Linked DNA regions of Homo sapiens. The protein of the gene in region 3 interacts with the protein of the main gene of each other region in a pairwise test. Each region holds a gene or a part of one and is shown on either strand. Other genes may lie near its edges. The genes, in order: SDHB, COX11 and TMEM132D.

Evidence for each region.
Region 1: the proteins of TMEM132D (region 3) and SDHB interact in a two-hybrid assay, tested with the Homo sapiens proteins (one large-scale study listed by BioGRID).
Region 2: the proteins of TMEM132D (region 3) and COX11 interact in a two-hybrid assay, tested with the Homo sapiens proteins (one large-scale study listed by BioGRID).

The regions. Positions count from the first base shown.
Region 1 is NC_000001.11:17,047,408-17,051,064, forward strand, and holds part of SDHB (succinate dehydrogenase [ubiquinone] iron-sulfur subunit, mitochondrial isoform 1 precursor), read right to left. Parts: intron 1-3,657. UniProt on the Homo sapiens protein: Iron-sulfur protein (IP) subunit of the succinate dehydrogenase complex (mitochondrial respiratory chain complex II), responsible for transferring electrons from succinate to ubiquinone (coenzyme Q).
Region 2 is NC_000017.11:54,962,655-54,965,677, forward strand, and holds part of COX11 (cytochrome c oxidase assembly protein COX11, mitochondrial), read right to left. Parts: intron 2,199-3,023; coding exon 2,043-2,198; intron 778-2,042; coding exon 652-777; coding exon of another isoform or gene 607-651; exon of another isoform or gene 267-606; intron 262-266; coding exon 79-261; 3' UTR 1-78. UniProt on the Homo sapiens protein: Exerts its effect at some terminal stage of cytochrome c oxidase synthesis, probably by being involved in the insertion of the copper B into subunit I.
Region 3 is NC_000012.12:129,078,502-129,082,158, reverse strand, and holds part of TMEM132D (transmembrane protein 132D precursor), read left to right. Parts: intron 1-126; coding exon 127-400; intron 401-3,433; coding exon 3,434-3,625; intron 3,626-3,657. UniProt on the Homo sapiens protein: Regulate neuronals morphology via inhibition of the WAVE regulatory complex (WCR), a complex that controls F-actin cytoskeletal dynamics.

The DNA.
Region 1 (3,657 bases), on a different chromosome or scaffold from region 3:
TCTTCTCACCTGTAATCCCAGCACTTTGGGAGGCTGAGGTTGGGAAATCACCTGAGATCAGGGATTCAAGACCAGCCCAGCCAACATGGTGAAACCCCGTCCCTACTAAAAATACAAAAAAACGAATTAGCAGGGTGTGGTGGCGTGTGCCTGTAATCCCAGCTACTAGGGAGGCTGAGGCAGGAGAATGGCTTGAACTTGGGAGGTAAAGGTTGCAGTGAGCTAAGACTGTGCCACTGTATACCACCCTGGGTGACAAAGTGAAACTCAAGCTAAAAAAAAAAAAAAAAGAGAGAGAGTTTTGCTCTGTCACTGATTGTGCAGTGGCATGATCACAGCTCACTGCAGCCTCAACCTTCTGGACTCAAGCGATCCTCCCATCTCAGCTTCCCCAGTAGCTAGGACTACAGGCATGCGCCACCATGCCCAGTTAGTTTTTTTACATTTATTTTTGTAGAGATAGGGGTCTCACTGTGTTGCCTAGGCTGGTCTTGAACTCCTGGCCCCAAGTGATCCTCTGCCTGGCCCTCCCGAAGAGTTGGGATATAGGCATGAGCCACCATGCCAGGGCCCACATACTCTTTACCCAGTCTCCCCAACAGGAACATCTTGCAAACTGTAGCACACCAGCACAACCAGAATACTGACAGTGCTAGTCAAGATAGGGGACATTCCCATAAGCACAGGATCACTAACATTGCCCTTTTATAGCCCTGTCCACTTCCTCCCACCCTACCTCCCCTGTACTCCGTAAGCCCTAGCAATCACTAATCTGTTCTCTACTTCTCAAATTCGGTCATTTCAAGAATGTTATATCAATATAATCATCTGGTATGTAGCCTTTTGGAATTGGCTTTTTTTATTCAGCCGAATTCTCCGGAGATTCATCCAAGTTGCTGTGTACAGCAATAGCTTTTTTCTTGTTATAGCTGAGTAGCACTCCAAGGTATCATGTACCACAATTTGCTTAACCATGTAACTACTGAGGGACATTGGGGGTGTTCTAATTTTTGGTGACATGAATAAAGCTGAGATGAACATTTGTGGACAAATTTCTGTGTGAACGTTACATCTTCATTTCTCAGGATAAACACCCAGGTGTGTAATTGTTGGGCTGTATGGTAGCTACAAGTTTAGTTTTTTTTAAGCAACTGACAAAACTATTTTCCAGAGTGGGTGGCTGCTGTGCCTGAGGCAGATAGTAGGGTAAGTGGGACAATATGCCTTTTAAAAAATGGGGCTACTTCAAGTTTTTACTTCTAATTTGGACACTTTTATTTTTCATTTATTTTTTAAAATATTTATTTATTTATTTATTTTGAGATGGGGTCTCACTCTTGTCCCCCAGGCTGGAGTACAATGGCGCGATCTCGGCTCACTGCAACCTCCACCTCCCGACTTCAAGTGATTCTTCTGCCTCAGCCTCCTGAGTAGCTGGGACTACAGGTGCCTGCCACCACGCCGAGCTAATTTTTATATTTTTAGTAGAGACGGGGTTTCACCATGTTGGCCAGGCTGGTCTTGAACTCCTGACCTCAGGTGATCCGCCTGCCTTGGCCTCCCAAAGTGCTGGGATTATAGGTACAGGCCACCTTGCCCGGCCTTTATTTTTTATTTTTATAGACACATGGTCTAGCTTTATTGCCCAGGCTGGAGATCATGGCTCACTGCAGCCTTTAACTCCTGGGCTCAGGCGATCATCCTGACTCAGCCTCCCAAGTAGCTGGGACTATAGGTGCACACCATCATGTCCAGCTAATTTTTGTAGAGACAGGGTCTTGCCATGTTGGCTAAGCTGGTATGGAATTTCTGGGCTTAAGCAATCCTCCCATCTCAGCCTCCCAAAGTGTTGGGATTACAGGTGTGAGCCATTGTGTCTGGCCCTAACTTGGACTTTTTTTTTTCTTTTTTGGAGAGTCTCATTCTGTTGCTCAGGCTGGAGTGCAGTGGCGCGATCTTGGATCGCTGCAACCTCCACCCCTCAGGCTCATGCAATTCTCCTGTCTCAGCCACCCGGGTAGCTGGGATTACAGGCATGTGCCATAAAGTCCAGCTAATTTTTGTATTTTTAGTACAGACAAGGTTTTGCCATTTGGCCAGGCTGGGCTCAAACTCCTGGCCTCAAGTGATCCACCTGCCTCAGCGTTCCAAAGTGTTGGGATTACAGGTGTGAGCAACCGCGCCTGGCCCCTAACCGGGCTTTAAACAGAATCTGGGACTGGAGCATAATCCCCTAGTTCTTTTTTTTTTTTTTTTTTTTTTTTTTTTTTGTGAGACAGTCTCACTCTGTCACCCAGGCTGGAGTGGAGTGGCGAGATCTCTCTGCCTCCTGGGTTCAAGCAATTCTCCTGCCTCAGCCTCCCAAGTAGCTGGGATTACAGGCGCGTGTCACACGCCCGGCTAACTTTTTTGTATTTTTAGTAGGGATGGGGTTTCACCGTTTTAGCCAGGATGGTCTTGAACTCCTGATGTCGTGATCCACCTGCCTCAGCCTCCCAAAGTGCTGGATTACATACAGGTGTGAGCCACTGTGCCAGGCATAACCCCCTAGTTCTAAAGCCTGATTTAGTATTGTCAGTGGGCAACAGGCATTAGGCTCTATCAAGCTGGGTATCAGAACCACAAGGCCTGTGGGATGACTGTGGTTACCTGCAATGAGGTTTTCCCTTCAACATTTCTTTATAACATTTAAATATCTGTTTCATATCCACTCTACACGGATAATTGATCACGTATTATCTTTCCAAAAGAGACTAAGTTTGTATTAGAGCTAATTTAAATTTTTAAAAAGTCTTATCATATGAATGATGTGAAATAAGAGCAATGCCAGGATGTACTACACTGAATATCTAAGTCGACATATCCCAACATCAGTTTTGGAGTGCCCCAAAATGTCATCATTTTTTTTTTTTCAGTACAACTAATTTAAATTTGTTTTGTGTCAAAAATGTATTTTATAGGCCAGGCGTGGTGGCTCATGCCTGTAATCCCAGTACTTTGGGAGGCCGAGGCAGGTGGATTACCTGAGGTCAGGAGTTCGAGATCAGCCTGGCCAACACGGTGAAACCCCGTCTCTACTAAAAATACAAAAAAATTAGACAGGCACGATGGCGGGCACCTGTAATCTCAGCTACTTGGGAGGCCGAGGCAGGAGAATTGCTTGAAATCCGGGAGGCGGAGGGTACGGTGAGCCAAGATTCCGCCACTGCACTCCATCCTGGGCAACAACGTGAGCGTGACTCTGTCTCAAAAAAAAAAAAAAATGTATTTCATACAATATTTGGTGGGGCAAAGGGGGTTTACCAGAATGAAAGAAGATTCTGAAATCAAAATCACCAGAGTGGTCATGGTTCTGAAAGTGATAGAGCTTTGCTCATCTTGAGGTCTGTACAAAGAGTTAATTCTCAGGATTATGTTATCTGTGTTCCACCAAAAAATTCGTTGAATACATATATCTAAAAATTTGCCAGATTTCATTCATCGAACCTTTATAATCTGTCACACACGGTGCCAAATAATCTCTAATCTTTATAACATCTCTATGAAAAATGTTTTGTTGTTCCCAGTTAAAAGACGAGGATAGGATCATATAGCAACACAGGTCACTTGATTCAAAAATCCAACCTTTTAGCCATTATAACCAGTGGTGAAAACGCA
Region 2 (3,023 bases), on a different chromosome or scaffold from region 3:
AATATTTCTCCTTTGAGAAGATAGGATATATGATTTTCCCAAAAATCACAACTTTGAAGGAAGACTTAGTTGCTGACTTCAATTATATCCTGGAACTGGCAACTTGTGCCCTTCCTTTGCTTCAAAAAAAGTGTAAGAAAGAGTGATAAGATCAACTTTAATCATTCTTGGATCTTCAGCAAATTCAGGATCAATGTAGAAAAACACTGGCATATCTACTTCCTCTTGGGGATTAAGCCTTTGTTCTTCAAAACAGAAGCACTGGAAATTATAGAAAGATTTTAATAACATTTCTATTCTCGTATTACATAACAGAAACTATACAGTTCTTTTATCTTAGCATTCCAGTACACTTCGTGATTTTAATAAGCATACTATTAAATACACAGTTCTGTGATAAATTAAGAGCATCTTTTCATCTCAATGAGTTCTGCTTTAAGGATGAAGAACAAATTCTAATCTTAAAAGCAGATATCCATTTGGTTTGGTTCTCAATCTCTGCATAGCAGGTATAGATAGTGAAGAAAAATAGCTTGATGTTTAGAAGAAATTCGTTTTCAGAAATCACAAGATCTACTAAAACACTAAGTTTCATACTAAACCGTTTCATGTATCTTTATCATATTCTGTAAAGTTTACACTTTGATGTACCTGTATTTTATTGAAATACTGTCCAGCTTCAAATGGAACAATATTGTATGTAGAAATTCCAATTACTGGTTTGTCAGTAGGATTCTTAGCTCTGTAAAACGCCAGTGCAGTCTCTCCTGGCACCACCTGTTTTAAAGAATATATATATTATCAATACTTTGAATCTCACAAAGTTCCTCTTTTCCCTGCTAAATTAGTCTCATTATTTTGCCTATTCATCAGACCATAATACCTAATCTAATGTAGGGTTCAGCAAAATAAATTGTGAATATTACCCATAAACATATCTGAGTTTAAAAACTTACTTGCATATGTCAATGAAGAACCAATGTTCTAATATCCATAATTAGTTATGAACTGTCCTCTTGTATATTTGAGGTCTTCAAGGAATAATCGGCAAATTACATTATTTAAAATGTGTCCAAGCCAATCATATCACAGCCCTAGCCCAACTTTTCTGTAACACTTATACCTGAATGTCATGATTGACTATTTTTTTTAAAAAGATACCAACATTAAACTTACCTTAAAATCAGAATAAAACTGACTGACTAGAACCTTTATTATGCCACAAAGTGTTAATACTTTGGAGAAAATAAGGGAATAGCGAGGCTTAAAAAAATTTTCCAAAGGATATTCTGTCACTTGTACCAATTCAGCCACTAATACCTTTGTATACTACCACGTAATTGGAGAAGATTCATAATCATAACCTATAAAATCTTTATTAAGAGATTCAGTCATGTTTACTAAACTGGGCAAGCACTAATATTTATAAGGCTTTTCCAATATGGGTTGAAATTAACTCACTCTGGCTAATCCTCAATTAATGAGATTTCAGTTAAAATCTTTCTTACAGTTGGTTAAAATTTTAGGAAAGCGTTTAGGTATAGTCTCAGTCTCACTGGAGTATAACATAACTATTTACTACTTATTGATTATTTCAAAGGCCCTCAATTTGTTTTCTTTTAGAAGGACAGGGATACTTTTGATATAAACCAGTAAACTACTCATTGTAACCAATGCTTTTCCACATTTTTCCCATGTCTTCTATGCCTGAGGAAAAGTCAGGAAGCTATATAGCCTGACGGTTACTGCTACTCCCAACTGTTTCACTCATCTAAACTTAATTTCAAAATACTGACGGGTTCCATTACTATAAATTTTTTTATTCCCATAGACTACTTTTTAATAGTGCTTTACACCTAATGTAACAGAATTTATACTTTAACTTTTAAGTTACATGATAGTAAAAGTCAATTTGGAACAATGGAAAATGCCATGTTTTATTAGAATCATAGTGTTAAAATTAGTCCTCTGACAGTTTAAGTGATGAAAGAAAGGAATTTACATTAATAAAGTAATCTTTTAATGACTGGTTAGTCACTTACATATATTTCTGTTTGCTGAGGTCTAAAGTTCCACTGGAGACTTGCATGCACATCTGCATTAAAGCTAATTTTAATGATTCGATCTTTAACAGGCACCATGTTTTCAATCTTGTCTGAGGCATGACCTGCAACTGCTGATCCTCCAAGTCCAGTAGTCTAGAAAAAGATACCAAATATGTTAAACAATACTTTTAGGTGTTGATGATCTATTTATTTGATAAAAGTTTAAAAACAATGTAGTATTTATAATCCATTTGGAGCCAAGTTTACATATGGTAACTGACCATTGCTGTAACTGTGTCAAGAATCTGACTACTTTTGGGATGTCATGAGCCTGTATTTGTTAAAGTCATTCCTATTTTTCAGCAATCCCTTGGTTACCTGGCATGGTCAAAAATGAGTCTGGGAAAAGCAGGTTCACTAGATAAGTCAACTATTATCACTGATAGTCGAACTCACAATTTCCAGCTTAGCCATTTATAAAAAACACATTTCCCTTTATTGCTAGTATTTCATTAATAGAAATAAAATTTACCCATGACCTTGTAATTCCACTGAAAATACTTAACTCAATTTTTCCATATTCCTGTCTGGTCCTTTTCCATATCACAGCTTTTATAATCCAAATAAGATTGTAGCTTCACTTTTATTAACATTCTGCTTTTCTAAGGTATCACAGGTATTTTCCCACGTTGGTTAATGGTTTTGAATCTTTTCTGTACTTCTCTGTATAGTAGAGCTTTTATATAAATCACTAATCAGAGCACCTAATCCCTATGGCCACAGAAATAATCATAGGGCATCAAGAGTATTTATGTCTGACATTTCTTTTATTCATGACAGTTATTTCCTTGACATCACTTTTAAAAAAAGCCCTTACCCAGCACTTTGGGAAGCCACGGGGGGCGGATCATGAGGTCAGGAGATGGAGACCATCCTGGCTAACACAGTGAACCCCCGTCTCTATTAAAAATAGAAAAA
Region 3 (3,657 bases):
TCTGGCTATAAACTCCTTGAAGTCTCATGGCCTACCTACCTCTGCAGCCCCCACCAGGCTCCACACACGGCCCCTTACAGAGGACCAACAAGTAACTGTCTGCAAACTGCACTGCTTCTTTCACAGGCCTGCCGGGGACAGTGAAGAGGAGGAGGATGATGAGCGGAGGGGCCGCGGCTGCACCCTGCAGTACCAGCACGCCATGGTGCGGGTCCTGACGCAGTTTGTGGCTGAGGCGGCCGGCCCTGGGGGACACCTGGCCCACCTGCTGGGCTCAGACTGGCAAGTGGACATCACGGAGCTGATAAATGACTTCATGCAGGTGGAGGAGCCCAGGATCGCCAAGCTGCAAGGCGGACAGATCCTGATGGGGCAGGAGCTTGGGATGACCACCATTCAGGTAAAAAAAAAAAAAAAAATCCCCAAATCAAGATCTCTCTGTCTTCCCACCTCTGCTCTACCTAGAGGAGAAACCAGCTGTTTGTCATTGCTGGGAATGGTATCTATTTTTAGGATGGGTAAATTCAAAGAAATTGTGGAGTAAGCAATACAAGCGATTTTGGCTGGGTGTGGTGGTTCACGCTTATAATCCCAGCACTTTGGGAGGCCGAGGCGGGCAGGTCATGAGCTCAGTAGTTTGCGATTAGCCTGGGTAACATGGCGAAACCCCATCTCTACCAAAAATACAAAAAATTACCCGAGTGTGGTGGTGCATGCCTGTGGTCCCAGCTACTCGGGAGGCTGAGGTGCAAGGATCGCTCGGGCCTGGGAAGCAGAGGTTGCAGCGATCTGAGATCGTGCCACTACACTCCAACCTGGATGATGGAGCTAGACCCCATCTCAGACAAAACCACAATGCAAGCCATGTAATGATGTGATGAGAATCTCAAAATTCCTCACATATTACTTATAGGGGAGAAACTCTGGGCTGGCTCCCATGGTGGCTCACGCTTGAAACACATGATTTTGCCCAAGCCATGGTAGGCGTTACCATCTTGGTAAACAAGCTTTTGAGGTGAGCTTACCTGATCTGAATCACAGGCACGGCCAGCAACTTCCTGCTGAGCCACTTTCCGCCACTGAGCATGGTCACCTAAACCTTCCCACGGCTTCAGGATATTGTGGCCGCCCCTACCGAGTCACAGCCGCGGGCCTGATGAGAACCTGAACAACTCAGAAATGTGCTAAAGGACGAAGTGAAGTGATTGTGCCTCCATATGTCTCGTGGGCCCCTTCTGCTGGGGAGCGGGTGACGGAGAGGACCAGTGGCAACACTTGGGTTTTGAAACACTTTAACAAAACAGTGTTCTGGGAGGCTTGTAAGGGTTTGGTCATTTACCTCCCAGCTGAGAACAAAGCAAGAGATTGTTTTCTTTCTGTGTACATGTAAGGGGTGCAAGTGCAGCTTTGTTACCTGGACATATTGCGTGTCTGCCTTGTTAGTGTAGCCATCACCCAAATAGTGTACATTGTAGCCAAAGGAAGAGTGTATTACTCAGCAGCTGCCCCATCTGCAGGCAATGCGATTGTCTTATCAGGCAATCTGTGAGGTTTCTAAAACAGCTGTGCATGAGGAATCATTATAACTGAGACTAGATTGGATCGTGGAAGATTTAAAACATATCCATTCTGGAAAATTGGCTGGTATATCTAACACTTCATTTTATCCAAGGAGGAAAATAAATGGGTTTGGGCCGTAGACCAGGAGTCGCATGCTCTAATGATCTCTAAAGGCTGAGAAGCTACCATCAGTGAGGAGAGTAGGCTGGGTGTGTGCTGAAAGACAGACAGCAGCTGATTTTCCTCTGAGTGTTAGAGAGACAACAGGGAGTGGTGGTGCCTGTGGAAAAGGGGCAAGCTCTTACTCAGAGCCAAAAGCTGCCAAGAAGAAACGCAAGTCTACTGCAGCCATATGTTGCAATTTTCCAGAAAAGCTGGAAGTCTGTTTTTATATGCAATCTTCTGGCTCTCTAAATGATGGTCATTAATTCTACCTTAAAATATGATTTATGTCAGACAAAACATATCTGTCTCATAGATGAGAGCTTGCAACCTCCACAATTGACTAAGAAGTTGAAAGACCTGAATCCCTACCATAAATCTATAGGCTAAACTGATACTGATGCCCAGAAACTCACAGCGAGATGAGAATTTGGTATTAACATCTTCCCTTAAGTGATAATTTAAGTGCAAAGGGGAAAAGCCATACCGTTCTGAAACCAGGTGTCAGGGAAGAGGAAGTGGGCCAGCTTCCCACACATTAAACATGAACATTATTTTGGTGAGGCCTCTACTCCTGCGAGCCTTGGTTCTTTTCTCTTTTTTCTCACTGTGTCCTCCTGAGTCATAAATTCACTTGTCCACTTTCTTCTGGGGACACACCTCTCATGCTCGCCACCATTTAAATTGTCCCAATCGGACCAGAAAGTGAAGGTGGCATTCGGGTAGAAGTATGGAGCTTTGATTCCTGGTCTCAAAGGGTCCTGGGAAAACTGCTGTCTTGACCTACATCATAAATATCACCAAAAACTTGAAAAGAGAAAGAGGTCGAGAAAGCAGGAGAATGGAGGATGAAGCCCATCTCTTCTAGAAGGAAGGTTGTTATACGGGGCTGTGAGGAGTCTAAGACAGCTGTTTATCATTTGGGCGAAGGGTGAGAGGAGGAAGAAGTGATTCCACAGACGTTCCTCAAAAGCAGGATTTCCTGTTCAGGGTCTAAATTGCACATAAGCCTCATTTTCCAGGTCATTCCAGGTGTCCAGAGGAGAAATGAGGCTTTGGGTTGTGGGCATCAGGCGTAGACATTCAGAACCTACGTTTATCAGAATATGCCCAACGATATTCCTCATCAACAGGCATCATGCGCTGCGTTTCCCAAAGTGTACAGTGTGGCCTCCAGTGACACGCGTGATTGAGATGGACCAGCAGGATCCGCCTTCTAGTTGCACATTGGTTTTTATGTGCAAGAGCGAAAGCTATCAATATGTAACCAGTACACCCAACCCGTCATTCACTGGTGATAGGAAGGCTTTTGAAAAAAACAAATCATTTAAGTAAAATAAATAATTTTAAACAAAATACACACTGTGCTGTAGAAGAATCATAAAGCTAATAGTCGAATGAAAACGTCAGTTCCTCCTGTCCAGGATGGAGCATGGTGGGAAACGGAGCTGATGTGTGGGGTGTGGGGAGAGGGCCAAGCCCTACCTGCCCACTCCTTGACACCACCTTGCTTTATGCAAAAAATGCATTACATTTTCTCAAGCAATACATATGATTCAGAAGGTGGTGTGAGTGGGAAAGGCCTGTTCTCATTCATTCTGGCTCACATGTTGCCCTGCCGCTGCCTGCACACTGGCACTTCCTCCTGTGACTGGAGGCATTGCCTGGACCACAGAAAGCCTTTCCTTGTCATGTCGCTTCTGCCCTCCAGATCCTGTCTCCTCTGTCAGACACCATCCTCGCTGAAAAGACCATCACTGTGCTGGACGAGAAGGTGACCATCACAGACCTCGGGGTGCAGCTGGTGACAGGGCTGTCACTCTCCTTGCAGCTCAGCCCAGGAAGCAACAGGGCCATCTTTGCCACTGCAGTGGCTCAGGAACTTCTGCAGAGGCCAAAACAGGTATGGAGGAGGGCTTGAGACACACTTCAGCA